2 separate regions of the Homo sapiens genome follow, and region 1 is linked to region 2. The links come from fine-mapping of genetic effects on gene expression. Tissue or cell type: unexposed skin. Region 2 holds a variant in brackets; the other region holds the start of a gene. All regions are shown on one strand. Distances are from middle to middle.

The links. PIP is the estimated chance that this variant, and not a neighbour inherited with it, causes the effect.
Region 1: it holds the start of SEC31B, and the variant in region 2 is fine-mapped to the expression of SEC31B in unexposed skin (GTEx, PIP 0.95).

The regions. Positions count from the first base shown.
Region 1 is chr10:100,518,722-100,521,470 of GRCh38, reverse strand. It overlaps SEC31B (SEC31 homolog B, COPII component), which reads left to right and starts at 1,610. Exons shown (of 26, transcript NM_015490.4): 1 at 1,610-1,689.
Region 2 is chr10:100,358,071-100,360,570 of GRCh38, reverse strand. All of the region lies in intron 5 of SCD (stearoyl-CoA desaturase), which reads right to left. Among named protein-coding and RNA genes, the nearest start is that of SCD, 12 kb to the right of the region's middle. The variant G/A (reference allele first, on the strand shown) is at 1,382.

The DNA of each region.
Region 1 (2,749 bases), 160 kb before region 2:
TGTCACCCAGGCTGGAGTGCAGTGGCATGATCTCAGCTCACTGCAACCTCTGCCTCCCAGGTTCAAGTGATTCTCATGCCTCAGCCTCCCGAGTAGCTGGGATTACAGGCACATGCCACCACGCCCAGCCAATTTTTTCGGTATTTTTTGGTAGAGATGTAGTTTCACCATATTGGTCAGGCTGGTCTTGAACTCCTGACCTCGAGTGATCTGCCCGCCTCAGCCTCCCAAAGTGCTAGGATTACAGGCATGAGCCACTGCTCCCAGCAAGAATTCTTAAGAGGTGTGAGTTGAGAAAGTGCACTTTTAATTTGGCTTAATCATGTCCTACCCGAAACTGTGACTTAAGCTTCTGGTTCAAATTTCTTTAGGAGTATTCCATCAGTAACTCTTCTGCCTCCTTCTCTCAGGTTTAGTTTTTAACCCTGTTTACTTTTCCTCAGGCTTCATTCCCTGTTGTGCCAGCTAAGAAGTTCAGGAAATACTTGAGTACTTAGTAGGTAGGAAGCGTGGGCTAGGCACAGATAATGCACTGAATTACCTTCTGTCTAACTTCAAAATTGCCAGATCCACATGGAAGGGAACTGGAGTCGTGTCACAATGAGTTGGGCTCCATCATGATAACTGGCCCCCCATCTTTGGAGGTGTATCAGGCAGGAATACAGAGAATTCATGCGTTAAGCATAAGTTTCTAAGATTTAAAGCTGCCTACAGAATTTTTTTTTTTTTTTTGAGATGGAGTCTCTGTCACCCAGGCTGGAGTGCAGTGGCGTGATCTCAGCTCACTGCAACCTCCACCTCCCGGGTTCAAGCTATTCTCATGCCTCAGCCTCGTGAGTAGCTGGGACTACAGGCCTGCACCACCATGCCCGGCTAATTTTTATATTTTTGGTAGCGACGGAGTTTCACCATGTTGGCCAGGCTGGTCTCGAACTCCTGACCTTTGGTGATATGCCCACCTTGGCCTCCCAAAGTGCTGGGATTACAGGTGTGAGCCACTGCACCCGACCTGTCTACAGAACATTTTTATTTGGAAGTGGCACAATTTCTTCAACATAAAAAATACATTATCGGCTGGAATATCACCTGTGTTCTTGCAGCTCCAGAGGATAACACCCCTCCTATGTTCCTCAAATATTTCAGGAAGCCCCTGGCCCTGTAGTCTCACCCTCCATACACTTATAGCCCTTAATTCAACCAAGTTTTGGGCACCAGTTTCTGCTGGGCTGCAGTGCAACACTCACTGCCATTTACAGCCTCGATTGCTTTTTACGTTTTCAACTAAATGGATTCCACTGAGGGCTCCTGGGGCCAGGGCCGGGTCTTCTCCCGCTTCAATACATAGATAATGAGTTAGTATTTTCCCTTTTCAGAGACTGGCCCTAGAGCCTGGCTCAAACTGAATAGACCAGAACTTACTGGTCCAGATCTGACCCGCTGCGCAATCACAGGGTAGGTGAGGGAGGCCCGGTTAAAAGCTATAATCCTGTTTGGAAACGTTCTCCGTGGGTCTGTCAGTGTCTCGGGCTCGGCGCCCGCGGAGCGTGTTTCCGACGGTGCCCTGCCGGGGTCCGCGCCGCTTTGGTCCTCCGCAGCCGCCGTCCACAGCGCCCGGCTCCGCGCGAGAGCCCTGCCAGAGGAGCGGCTCCGGCCGCCGCGCCTGACCCTTGTCCGGGGTCTTCCGCACAGGTTGGTTCGCCCCGCCGGTCTGGGGTCCCTGGTAGCAGAGATTGCGCTGGGGACCCGGAGCACTGCTCCTTTCTCGGCAGAGCGCGGAGGGGAGCCCGCTTGCTGCGGAGCCCCCGGCCCGCGCCTGCCCTGCCCGCGGGTCCGGGCCTCGGGGGCCTCCACTACGTCTACCCTTGAATTGGATCCGGCTCTACTGTCCCTGCCGCACGGGAACCCCCAGCCGGATGAGGGTCTCCCTGTTCACTGCTGCCTTGCGCCTTCCCATCCGCCTTGGTCCTGACCTGGCCCAGCCGAGGCCGTCCGGTGTCGCTGCGTTTGGGCTGGGCGGGAAGGTCTGTCATTGCTGACCCTGGCGCGCCGCGCTTCGGCGACAGCGGGAAAGAGGCTGTGCTGACCGTCCTCCCTAGGGACTGGACTGCCAAGGGTAGCTGGTGCCCTCCTGCACGGCAGGTCTGTCGAGCATTTCATTGGTCATCTCCCCCTCACGCCCCCATGGCCAATCTGACCCCAGCGGGGGCCCTTTTTTTGTGAATAGATGCCTCTTAACAATGTGAATTAAGAGCCCATTTTCCCAGTTCCTAGACTGTCAGCGATTAAAACACTTTCTAGGGTTTACTTGCGACTAGTACAGTGGTTAGAAATACGGGCTCTTGATGCTGATGGGGGTTCACATCCCGGCCTAGCCAGTTGTCATCTCTAGAAAATGGGGATAATCATAGTACTTACCTGATAAGACCACTGAGAGAATTAACTGAGATATGCACATCAAATGCACAGCTGCTTATCGCAGCTCCTATTTTTGTTGTTAGGGAATCTTTTCCCAGAAACATTAAAATGGCTGTGACCAGCAGGTGGCACTGGTGACTGTATAGTAGAGTGTTGAGCTGGTCACAGAATACGTGATAGTAGCCACAAGTGTTTAAAGGTGCTTTGGAAATCTTGGCTTAATGGGCAGGCTTAAACTTTCTTCACGCTAGAAAGTACCTTAGAGATTAAGTAATACTATCTCCTGTTTTTGTAGGTGAGACTGATCTGACTATAGCTTACTCAAGCAGGTCAC
Region 2 (2,500 bases):
GCATCTTTACTTTTATTATTTTACTTTTTTTGTAGAGACGGGGTCTTGCCATGTTGCAAGCAACCCTCCCACGTTGACCACCCAAAGTGCTAGGATTACAGTCATGAGTCACTGCGCCCAGCCAGTCAAAGGCATCTTAAGGAGTGATTGGAGACCCTGGTCACCCGTGGCTGTCTGGGAGCCTTGTGGGAGGAGAACTGACAGTTTCTCAGAGGATAAAATGACTAGAGAGAAGCTCCTACTTTTGGGAATGGGTATCAGGTTGGAAAATTCCAAATTCACTCTTGGCCCTGCCCTCAAGGCTCTGTGTGCATGTGCATGTGCACGTCCTTGCAGAATGAAGCACTCTGGCTATGACTCTTAAAAAAATGAGTAAAGAAGCACACCTTTCCCCACCACACTGGAACCACCTCTAGGGGTGGGAGGTTCCAAAAGAGTGGGCCCTGCAGCCAAAGATCAGAAGAAAGGCCAGCCCAGGGGCTGGAATGTCCTCAGCCACTGCAGTTCCCAGGGGCTGCTCCAACTTTTTTGAGCTTTGACCCTGGTGTGGGGGAGGTGCTGATAAAACAGAAGCTCTCTGAGGAAGAAAAATACCCTGTAACCTCTGAGATTTTGAGGACTCTTGGGATGAACATTTCACTTTGCTGGAGGGAGGAAAACAAACAAATTCTGGATTCACAGCAATTTCTCTAACGTGTAAAGCTTTGGAAACTCGACAGATAGAGAGTTTGCCAACGCTTGGCAGGACTCTTCTTTCTGAACCACAGCCAAAAATAATACTGACCCTAATCAGGCATGGATAAAGAATAGCTACTAAGAGCTAATATTTGGCTCTTTGTAGATAACAGTACCCTCAGACAGACCAGTCATGACATTAATCAGAAGCAAGGCAAGGAAGTCCTGCAAAGTAAATGACATCATCTAGGGCATTTCAAGGTATGTCCTCTCTCTGTGACACCTGATGATCTGCAGTGTGAACTGGGGAGGAGGGGGGTAGAATGCCAGGAATAAAGGTACTGAGGATTATTAATGTCCATTAATGGTTTTGCAGCTGGGCTGTGTGTAAGCACTAGCCAGGCCTTTGGTTACCAGATTTAAAATGGAATCAGATGCACACAGAGACAAGGGAGGAAAAAAAAAGAAGAGGGTCAACGGGTAGAAAGAAGACAGGACTTTGCAACTGGGGCAGCAAGAGACAGCCCAAGAAAGGCTCAAGGGAGAAGGTTAATTTGGCAGAGAAGATGAGCATGTGACAGTGGGGGAGGTAATTCAAGAAACAAAAAGATTAGGGTGGCAGGAAACAGAGCTGGAGGAGAACAAAGGGTGAGGTGATAAGGGAGGAAAGCAGCAGGCAAGGAGGAGTGAATGATAACAACAACAG[G/A]TCAGATATTGGCAGCCACTTTGAACTCATGGCCACCCAGAGGCTGGAGGTGGGGAAGGTCATTATAGATCCATTTGCGATACAGGAAACATCTCATGCCAGAAACTCCATTCCTATGATAATCTCAGATTTATACAGTGTATATGATTTATTTTAATCATGGGTTAAAGTAAGAATAGGCACAATGGTAAGAAGGTGCCTGAAAAGAGATATGTGAAAGTTAAAAAGAGAGAAAAAAAATGCTTTTATTTTTATTATATATTTTTGAGATGGAGTCTCTGTCACCCAGGCTGGAGTGCAGTGGCACAATCTCGGCTCATTGCAACCTCTGCCTCCCGGGTTCAAGCGATTCTTCTGCCTCAGCCTCCTGAGTAGCTGGGACTACAGGCACGTGCCACCATGCCTGGCTAAGTTTTTTGTACTTTTTTTTTTTTTTTTTTTTAAGTAGAGACAGAGGTTCACCATATTGGCCTGGCTGATCTCTAACTCCTGACCTCAAGTGAACCACCCACTTTGGCTTCCCAAAGTGCTGGGATTACAGGTGTGAGCCACCACGCCTAGACAAATAAATCTTTTTTTTTTTTTTTTTTTGAGACGGAGTCTCGCTCTGTCGCCCAGGCCGGACTGCGGACTGCAGTGGCGGAATCTCGGCTCACTGCAAGCTCCGCTTCCCGGGTTCACGCCATTCTCCTGCCTCAGCCTCCCAAGTAGCTGGGACTACAGGCGCCCGCCACTGCGCCTGGCTAATTTTTTTGTATTTTTAGTAGAGACGGGGTTTCACCTTGTTAGCCAGGATGGTCTCGATCTCCTGACCTCATGATCCACCCGCCTCGGCCTCCCAAAGTGCTGGGATTACAGGCAATAAATCCTTTTAATAAACATAGTAGGCCAGGCGCAGTGGCTCACGGCTATTATAATTCCAGCACTTTGGGAGGCCAAGGCAGGAAGATCACTTGAGCTCAGGAGTTCGAGACCAGCCTGTGCAACATGGCAAAACCATGTCTCTACAAAAAAATAGAAAAATTAGCCAAGCATGGTGGCATGCACCTGTAATCCCAGTTACTTGGGAGGCTGAACCCCGAGGATCGCTTGAGCCCAGGAGGTCATAGCTGCAGTGAG